2 separate regions of the Homo sapiens genome follow, and region 1 is linked to region 2. Evidence: fine-mapped expression QTL. A gene starts in region 2. The other region holds a variant in brackets. All regions are shown on one strand. Distances are from middle to middle. Region 1 has its middle 15 kb from the start of ZNF543. Region 2 holds the start of ZNF460 (zinc finger protein 460).

Region 1 (5,377 bases), 25 kb before region 2:
AGATTATTAAAACCTATATATTTTTAAAAGAAAGCACAAAAAACAGCCTAGAAGAAAACCACAAAATAAGATGCATTTAAAACCAAATATATTAGCTATCACATGAATTGAATACAGAATGCGTGAATAGTAATTTCTAATGGATTAAAATAATCCAGTAGTAGTTCATAAATTACACATCTAAGATATAATGTCATAGAAATATATGAAATAGAAGAATGAAATATGTATACTTATAATTACTAAACACAAACACACAAAAATGTGTATTTGCATCTGACAAGTAGGAATAAGGAAGAAAACACCAGTAAAATATACTTTACAGTTTATACACTTTTAAAAATTTTAATATTACTTTTTATAAAGATGAGAGTTTCACTATGTTGCCCAGGCTGATCTCAAATTCCTGGCCTCTGGCAATCCTCCTGCATAGGACTTCCAAAATGCTGGGATTATAGGAGTGAGCCACTGCACCCGGCCTGTATACAATTTTTACCATCAATTCAAATTACATTAAAAAAATTTAGTATAATGAGAGTAAAGAATTAAATATACAGACAAACCAGGATATTTTAATATTAGCTATCTCAGTAATGATTTCAAGAAGGCAGGTATAACATTGGTGAGGTTCTATTAGATTCATACACCATAATGGACAAATCTGGACTGACAGATACATACAGAACAGCAGATATCAGTTGCCGAATGTTTTCTTTTAGCACAAACTGAGTATTTAAAAAACTGACAATATGTAGTATCAGAAAAAATCTTTAACTTTCATAGAATAAAAGAGAGAATACAATCAGTGTAGAGATCAACAAAAGATACCTCAAACTCCTGGCCTCAAGTGATCCTCTTGCCTCAGCCTCCCAAAATGTTGAGATTACAGGCTTGAGCCATCATGCCCAGCCTAGATACCTGATTTCTTTTTAATTATGCTTGAAATTCAAATTACAAAATACTAAGTAACCCATGCATAGAGGAAACAAAAATTGAAGATTATTTTATTTGTAAAATAATGACAATACCAATTTCATAGGACTTTTTATTAGTAGTATCATAGGCAGTCTTCTGACAAATTAGGAAAAGTAGATAGGGTCTGTCCTTAGAGTAGTGGCTTGGGCTGATTACCTAACTTCTCTGCACCTCAGCACTGTCATCATTACATTGAAGGGGTCCCTACGGTGCCTTAAAGTGCTCAAGCTCTATTATTCACCACACTATTTTGTCATTTTTAAATTATCATAGGATATTCAACCTGAAGTTTTACTTTACCTGCCCACGTCATCTCTACATATTCTCATGAGATGCAGTTCATGAATTCTAAAGCAGTATCATTTAATGTATTATTTTAAAAAGATATTTAGAAAGGTATATTCATTTCAAACATCTTTAAGAATAACAGTATATCCACTTAATACCAAAAAGCATCTCTACAGCATTATTTCATTTATATCAATTTTTAAATCAGCCAAAAATGCAAAGCTACTATTAGTAATATACATTTAAGGTGTCGAACTATGAAGAAAGTAAAATGAGTAAGGCAAAATTCTGGATGGCGGCATCCTCTGAAGGTGGAGGATGGAATTGGCAATCTGGCAGGCTCATGCCGGGCATGCTGATTTTGTTCTATTATATAATCAAGGGGCAGGGTTGAGTGTATTAGTTTATTATATTTATCATGTTTTCCCATTTTTTATTCATGTATAAGTAAAGATTAAGTGGACAAATCTTAATAGCCTGAAGACTGTCTACATGTGTTTCCCATGTAATTCCTAGTAATGCAAAGAGAGAGAACATTCCCAATAGCTTCTCAGGCACAAATTTGCCCTCTCAGTTAATACTGCATAAATGTGACCATTATCTTGTCTTTTATCATCATGTATGATGTTTGGTTATGAACTTAACAACATAATTCTACAGTATTTCCTACTGTGTATCTGGTATGCCACTGCCACTCAAGGTTTCTTTGAGAGGGAGACTATATATTTGTTACTATTATTAATGAATCTATTTCCATGACTGCTGTGAAAAACCCAGGCTGAGTTAACAGTGATGAGCTCTGGCCAGGCACAGTGGCTCACGCCTGTAATCCAACACTTTGGAAGGCTGAGGCAGGAGGATCACTTGAGCCCAGGAGTTCAAGACCAGGCTGGGGAACATAGGGAGACCTCATCTCTAGAAACTCACAGGTGGCATGCGCCTGTGGTCTCAGCTACTAGGGAGGTTGAGGCAGGAGGACTGCTTAGGCCAGGAGGATAAGGCTACAGTGAGCTATGACTGCACAACTGCACTCCAGCCTGGGGGATAGAGCAAGACCCCATCTCAAAAAAAAAAAAAAGAAAAAGCCTCAAGCATGTCAGTTCAAAAAAAATTTTTTTTTAAGTGATGAGTTCTGGAGGTAAATACACCCACTCTGGATTTTCTGGTTACAATCACTACCTTTTCTCTCAACCTCAGCTAGAAATCCAGACTCATGAGGCCTCAATCCCTGACCTTTCATTCCTTGCAAATGCCAAAGCCAACTATGTAGGAAACTTTTTCAGAGAAGAAAACTCTGTCCTCCCAGAAGATAAATTTTCCACTTTGCTCTA[C/T]GAGGCAGAGAGCAACCTCAAACCACAAACAGGTTGGGACTTGAACAGGCCTGAACTCAAGTATTCTTTCCTGGGAAATTCATCCATCTTGTTGGATAAAAGCAGCAGTTTTAATCAGTGTGTTTTCATCCATTTACTTACTGTTTCACAGTTTACTTAAACATCTTACAAATGACTGTCAATTGAACTATTTACAGTTGTTATTATAAAAGTTTTTTTTTTTTTTTCTTGAGACATAGCCTTCACTCTGTCGCCCAGGCTGGAGTGCAGTGGGGTGATCTCGGCTCACTGCAAGCTCTGCCTCCCGGGTTCATGCCATTCTCCTGTCTCAGCCTCCCGAGTAGCTGGGACTACAGGCGCCTGCCACCACGTCTGGCTAATTTTTTGTATTTTTTTAGTAGCGACAGGGTTTCACCGTGTTAGCCAGATGGTCTTGATCTCCTAGCCTTGTGATCCACCCGCCTCGGCCTCCCAAAGTGCTGGGATTACCGCGCCCGGCCGAAAGTGTTTTAAATCTTTGTATACATGTATTTTGGTGTAAGAAAGCACTCAATCCTAATGAGTATGCCCCAACATGACTTGTTTGGTTATAAAATATAAGTATGTTTAAATTTAATGTGAAACCCTTAAGTAACAACATATATAAACATTAACTCAAACAGATGTCAAAGCTTTGCAACACTGAGTTACACAAAGCCTAATTAGGTAGACAAGGATGGGAGGCTGAGGTGGGAGGATCACTTGAGTTCAGGAGATCAAGACCAGCCTGGGCAACGTAGTGAGACCCCCATATCTATAAAACAACAACAACAAAAATAGGATAACAAAGAACACAAACAACCGAAATATTTTGGATTACATCAAAATTTAAAACTATTCTTCAGGATACACTGCTAAGATAACAAAAAGAAACCAAATACAGATAAATGGTTTGCAAAACATGTATCTGACAAATAACTAGCATTCAGAATATTAAAAGATACAATGAATTCTTAAAATTCAATGTTAAGAAGAAAAAACAATTTAAAGTGGGACAAAAGATTTGGACAGATAGGGTCTGGTGCAGTGGCTCACGCCTGTAATCCCAGCACTTTGGGAGGCTGAGGTGGGCGGATCACCTGAGGTCAGGAGTTCAAGACCAGCCTGGCCAACATGGTGAAACCCCATCTCTACAAAAAATAAAAAAATTAGCTGGGCGTTGTGGTGGGGGCCTGTAATCCCAGCTACTTGGGAGGCTGAGGCAGGAGAACTGCTTGAACCTGGGAGACGGAGGTTGTGGTGAGCTGAGATCTCACCATTGCACTCCAGCCTGGGCAACAAGAACGAAACTCCGTCTCAAGAAAAAAAAAAAAAAGATTTGGAAAGATAACTAAAGATATATGAACAATGAACATATGAAAAAATGCTCAATACCAGTAGTCATTTCAGCAATGAAATTTAAATCCACAATGAGACACCTCTACACATCTGTTAAATTGAAAAACTTAAAGTGTAACAAAACCAAGTGCTCAAAAAGATGTAGGACTGGAGCTCCCACAAAATACTGGTGAGAAATCAAAATGGTACAGCCATTTTGGAAAACAACTTGGCAGTTTCCTATACAGGTAAATATACACATATCATATGACACAGCAATTCTACTCCTAGTTATTTACAGAATACAAACGAAAATGTTTCCAACCAAATATCTGTAGCAAGAGAGTGACTTCAGCAAGAAGGCAGATTAGCAGTCCGTAAATGCTGTTCTCCCCACCCCCACAGAGCCAAAATAAATAAGCAAATACATTTTAATGCAAATAACTAAAGGAAAGCACCAGAATATGTCAAAGTAATAACAAAAACTCTGGTGAGCACAGAAACTCAGGATAGCCAAGCAGAGAATGGAACACCTGGTCTCCACAACCCCATCCCCCAGCCAAGATCAGCTGAAAACCAGAAGGAATTTCTCCGTATGTGGAAAAAGTGAGCAATAGCATACCAGCAGCGTACATCACCACCTTGGACACCTACAGTACTCACCACTGGGGTCCCCTACAGCCCTCACAGGCACTAAGCTTAGCTGACGGACCCGCCTGGAGTCCATACAGCTGTGCTCCTGAGGAAGGAGCTGACACTGTCCTGCCCCCAGTGGCCCATACAGCTACTGTGCTGTTATTTTGGAACGGCTGGAGTTCTGTCTGGTTCCATGGCACCTCTTCATCCCTGAGGATAAGCCATCACCATCCACCCCCACCTGGTGGCCCAACATCTACAAGCAGCTTTTCCACCTTCCCATGTAGGGCCATGCAGTGGGAGAGCTGCACCACCTACCCCTCAAGTCCCTATGCTAGGCTGTGTCCTGTCACCTTCGACTAGAGCTGAAGCTGTGCACTCCCTCCTGGGAAAACAATGCTCTGGCAGATGTGCAACATCCACCTCTCACTGTCTACCTCTCAGTCTACTTCTCCCAAAACTGCCCTGCTTCCAGGGACCTGAGCTGAAGCTGCACATTGCCTCCTGAGGAAAGGATGCCTTGGCGAAGCTCCTCCACCTACCCCTCCCAGATGCTGCTACATCCTGCCCCTCTAGGCCAGAGCTGAAGCAATGCCAGGCATCCTGGGAAAACAGTGCATTAACCATCCAGAGCAGTCACACCCCTCTGTACCTGAGCTGAAGCAGTACCTTGTCTCCTGGGAAAACAGTACTTTGGCCATCGAGAGCAGTCATGCCTCCCCAGTGCCTAAGTTTAAGCAGCACCCTACCTACCACCCTGCCTTCCAGGTAACAGTGTCTTGGCCATCCCA
Region 2 (5,377 bases):
CTGGACCTGCTTCCAGGGAGAATTCACAATGAGCCATCGCTTCCTTTTCTACCTAAGTCCTACTAGCAGGCATCCCTGAGGCCAGAAGATTCCATGAGCAAGCAACAAGAGTCATAGAGGGCACAGCAGGTTGTAGCCAAGACAATATGGGCCCATCTGGAGATTACATCTATCCTGGCTGAGTAGGAGGGTACATTCAGCAACATAACCATACAAACGTGCCCTCTCAGAATATGTCAGCAGGTAAGGGAGTAAGGGGAACCACATATAAAACCACCGTGGAAGCCACACAGGTCCCCTGAGAACTCCTTAAACAACCAATATACCATTTTTTAAGTCTACACAGTTCCACCAGTATGAAAGGCCATGACTCCTCATGCCCAAGATCACTGGCTAGAAGGAGGCCTCATCTTGCAAAGGTTACTTTAGGTCTCACCCCCAGGCCTCCCTAACCACTGCGGGTAAAGAAGAGGGTAAAAACACAGGCTATGATGTTAGACACACCAGTTGTTAGTTTCTGACTTAAGAAACTTAAGAGCTACAGTGATGTAAGGCAGGTAATTGGACGTATGTGACCCTCAAATTGCTCTTGTGTAAAACAATGATGACAACAGAACCTAATTCTAAAGAGTAATCCCAGCACTTTGGGAGACCCAGATGGGTGGATCACCTGAGGTCAGGAGTTCAAGACCAGCGTGGCCAACACGGTAAAACCCCGTCTCTACTAAAAATACAAAAATTAGCCAGGCGTGGTGGCGCACACCTGTAGTCCCAGCTACTCAGGAGGCTGAGGCAGGAGAATCGCTTGAACCCAAAAGGCGGAGGTTGCAGTGAGCCGAGGTCACGCCACTGCACTCCAGCCTGGGCGACAGAACAAGACTCCGTCTCAAAAAAAAAAAAAAAAAAAAAAAAAAATTTCAGGGTTAAACGAACTGAGGGTTAAATAATACTCACCGATCAGCCCACAGCAAGGACTCAATGACAGTTAATATCATTCTTTGCAATTATTTTTCTTTGTTCCCATTACATCCTTGACAAACTCAAATCCACAAGCTTCTTTAATACCATCAGATTATCTACACAAAAATACCAGACTCTGGGCAAGGGTGTAAGGTGCCACTTTAGCCGGAATTGCCAAAAAAGGCACCTCCAAATAGGTGACACCTGGACAGATGCCAAAAGGATGTGAAAGGGAGGCCCTGCAAAGTTACAGGGGCAGTGTTCGAAGTAAAAGGAAGTGCAAGGAGAAAGCCTGGAAAATGGAAGAGGACTGCACGGTCAGGTTGGTGGCTCTGAAGAGCAAAGGACCAGGGAAAAATGCAAACAGACAAGGTCAGGGGTGGTTGGCCAGGTGGATGGGGTACGGGCTGGCAGGCAACAGAGAAGGTTGGATTTAGGGGAAGTGTGATGAGATCCCTAGAAGGAAGCATCACTCCTTCAACCACGGACTGAACACCTATCAGAGGCCAACACTGTTGCAGGACTGCGGATAAAGGAAATGACAAGCCACGGCCATTTCTCTTAAATAAACGATGGCGACAAAGAAAAATCCTGTGGCTGTCTTGGCTTCCAGCCTGCCCACGAGGCCTCTAGAAATAGCACAGCAGCAGCAAGGCCGAAACCTCGTCCACTCACCTGCGCCGGAGCCATCCACGCCGCCGCCATCCCGGGAATGCCGCGGATCAGCCGACCACAGCCCTTCTCTGTCCTGGGCGGGGCGACCTCGGCTGACTTTCGCACTCCGAGCCTCAGTTTTCCCCCGAAAAAAATGCGCACAAGGCCCAAGGCGCAGCGTCGGGGCTGAGGAGACGGAGGGCGGCTGCGGAGGCCTAGGCCTCGGCGGGCGCCGGTGGGACACCTCGTTAGGGGAGAAGCGGGGCGTCAGGCTCCCGCCAAGACGCGAAGAAGGGGCGTAACCGCTTCACTACCCGTCCCTGCTCAGGCCGCAGAACGCGCCCACCCAGCGCTCTAGGCCCCACACTGTTTCAGGGCCAAACCGGCCCACGGAGATGACGTCACACGAAGAAGCGGAAGTCCCGCCTCCGCCGCCCTGGCCCGCAGAAAACTCTCCTGTCCTGGGTCGTCAATGGCCCAGAGTCCGCGGCCGACGCAAGGGGCAGTGCCTTCTGGGTAATGCAGTTTTTCCCTTACATCTACCGGGTGTGGGAACTCACCCAGCGCATCCGACTGCACGTAAGTGCGCACCAGAACCCCCGCGTCGTCTTAGGGCCACCGCCTTAGTATAGGCACAAGTCGGAGGGTCGAAAGGTCCCTTCTAGCTCAGGAAAATCGAGGTCAGGAGGCGGGGATATTCGCCCCGATTCAGACCCCGAACAAAGGTGCTTACCCTGCTGTGGGCTGGGCCCGCGACTTCTCGCTTGCTTTGCCTCTTTTCTGGATCTTTTCATAGAAGAAAAGGATAAATGAGCAGTTAAAATAGCCACCCAAAGGAGGACGCCTGACAGTGTGCCCAGCCTGCTGGGAAAGGACAGACCGCCCTCTATTGGGCCTCCTTTGGCCGGGCCCAGCCTTCGTAGGATGCAGGGACTTCCGGGTGATGTAATAGGCTTCGCGTTCGCCACGTGTGGACTTCCCGTACCCTGAGGTGGGGAGGCTGCTAGTGGAGCAGGCTTGCCGGGAAGCCCAGTACTCCCATTTCAAGCATGATCAGTTTGAAACGTCAGTAAGACCACAAAGCGTAGTGCCATATACTCAACCTATGATTCAACATTGGCAGAGGGTTCGAGCGTGGATATATAAATTTGGGAGTTATTACTGTAAACTGTTACTTCAAGTCATGATATTGGGTGAGGCTATGAAAAGAATGAGCGTAGATGGATAAGTGACGGGAAAGAGGGGAACCCTGGCCCAACCCAGCATTAACTGGTTGCAGACAGGAGAGTTTATAAAGTCTTGTTAGGAATTTTAACAATCCTAGACTATGCAAAGATTATATTATGCGAAGTCTTAGGAGTCCCCATCAGTAACTTTTTTTTTTTCTTTTCATGACTATGAAAGTGAGAGAATAAAGTCCAGCTTTCAATGGTTTGACGATATATATGGTTAAGGAAATAGAAAGGTGTGCAGAAAGTACTCTCCAAGAGATTTAATTTTGAGATTGAAAATAGTCAAGGAATGGAGATGGAGTCAATTTCCTACACGATGCGGTACTTTTGGAGAAATATTTTTGGCTAAATTAGTGTGCAAGGAACACTGTTATTCATCACTGGCAATAGTAATTTTTGAAAATTGATAAAGACATCATTCTCTTTTTCACATATTTGTGACTCTTAAATTTTTTTTTTTTTTTTTTTTTTTTGAGATGGAGTTTCACTCTTGTTGCCCAGGCTGGAGAGCAGTGGCACAGTCTCCACTCACTGCAACCTCCGCCTCCCGGGTTCAAGCGATTCTCCTGCCTCAGCCTCCTGAGTAGCTGGGATTACAGGTGTGCGCCACCACGCCTGGCTAATTTTATATTTTTAGTAGAGACAGGGTTCTTCCATGTTGTTCAGGCTGGTCTCAAACTCCCGACCTCAGGTGATCCACCCACCTCGGCCTCCCAAAGTGCTAGGATTACAGACGTGAGCCACCCCCTCTGGCCAGACTCTTATAATTAAATTTAAATGGTTTTTTCAGAGGCATATGAACCAGAGCAACTCTATCTTAAATAGGAGCTGGGTAAAATGAAGCTAAAACCTACTAGGCTGCATTCCCAGACAGTTAAGGCATTCTGAGTCACAGGATGAGATAGGAGGTCAGCACAAAATACGGATCATAAAGACCTTGCTGATAAAACAGGTTGCAGTAAAGGAGCTGGCCAAAACCACCAAAACCAAAATGGTGACAAGAGTGACCTCTGGTCTTCCTCACTGCTACACTCCCATCAGTGCCACGACAGTTTACAAATGCCATGGCAATGTCAGGGAGTTACCCTATGTGGTCTGAAAAGGGGAGGCATGAACAATCCACCCCTTGTTTAGCAAGTCACTAAGAAATAACCATAAACATGGGCACCCAGCAACCCTTGGGGCTGCTCTGTCTATGGAGTAGCCATTCTTTATTCCTTTACTTTCTTAATAAACTTGCTTTCACTTGCACTGTGGACTCGCCCTGAATTATTTCTTGTGCGAGATCCAAGAACCCTCTCTTGGGATATGGATTGGGACCCCTTTCCTGTAACACATTCCTGGCCACTACAGAAGAGACTATACTGCAGGAACCCGTGACCCAAAGGCTAACTTTGGGTAAGTGGTGGGGTCGGGTAACACTTTTCTCGCAAACCACAAAAGGGACAATGCTGAGGAGACCCCCCTGACTCAAAGGAAATAGACTGCAGCACTGATTGGATGACTTTGGGTAAGTGGTGGGGTACCCAGGTAAAGAATGGGATTGGGATAGACGCTCAAGTTAGGGGAGTTAGAGTCTCTCCTAAGGCAGAGTGGATTAGAGGCCCCTCTTAATAAAAGGCAAGGACGCTTGACTGACCTTGGGTTAGAGGCCCAACTTAGGAGGATTAGAGTCCCTTCTAAGATTTAGGGGGTTAGAGACCCCTCTCAGTAAAGTCCCTCTTGGCTAAGAAGAGGTTTGGCACCGTGGGATGTTAACTGCTATTGTCTTTGGATTAATCTGCCTTGCACTCTTTGCTGATGGCTCCGGGCGACAGGGTTAGGCGTGTACAGGATCGTGGGACATGGGGAGCTTTTTCCTCCCCCAAAAGGGGAAACTTGAGAGCTGACGGGACTGCTGGAAAAAAATCCCTTCACGACAGCAGCCGTAGCCGCCTGAACTTTTCAGTGTCACTGCAATGGGTGGGTCTTTCTCTGGCCTCCCTGATCATTTTGCCTTCCCTGGGAAAGTATTGCTTGTGGAAAATATTTCCTGGGAAAGTATTGCCTGCGAAAGCATTTCCATATATAATTTTTTTTTTTTTTTTGAGACGGAGTCTCGCTCTGTCGCCCAGGCTGGAGTGCAGTGGCGCTATCTCTGCTCACTGCAAGCTCCACCTCCCGGGTTCAGGCCATTCTCCTGCCTCAGCCTCCCGAGTAGCTGGGACTACAGGCGCTTGCAACCATGCCCGGCTAATTTTTTGTATTTTTAGTAGAGACGGGGTTTCACCATCTTAGCCAGGATGGTCTCGATCTCCTGACCTTGTGATCTGCCCGCCTCGGCCTCCTGAAGTGCTGGGATTACAGGCGTGAGCCACTGCGCCCGGCCCCTTTCTTATCTTTTCTATTACTCTATTACTCAGGGCGACCATCTTGCCCAGAGACCACATGTTGAAACTCCAAGTCAGAGGTTGGATTAAAGATGACAGGGCCTATCTGGGGGCAAATTTAAGCCTTGCCAGTTTAATATTGGGTGCTAAGCAGAGTGGCTA

The links.
Region 1: its variant is fine-mapped to the expression of ZNF460 in whole blood (INTERVAL, PIP 0.91).

What each region holds. Positions count from the first base shown.
Region 1 is chr19:57,302,488-57,307,864 of GRCh38, reverse strand. No RefSeq gene overlaps it. Among named protein-coding and RNA genes, the nearest start is that of ZNF543, 15 kb to the left of the region's middle. RefSeq lists an enhancer at 4,727-5,226. The variant C/T (reference allele first, on the strand shown) is at 2,595.
Region 2 is chr19:57,277,095-57,282,471 of GRCh38, reverse strand. It overlaps ZNF460 (zinc finger protein 460), which reads right to left and starts at 1,987. Exons shown (of 3, transcript NM_006635.4): 1 at 1,636-1,987. The coding sequence starts at 1,665. ZNF460-AS1 (ZNF460 antisense RNA 1) reads left to right here and starts at 2,138. Exons shown (of 3, transcript NR_136529.1): 1 at 2,138-2,193. RefSeq lists enhancers at 506-625, 1,554-2,145, 1,529-2,728, 2,146-2,737, 1,852-2,791 and a silencer at 1,082-1,131.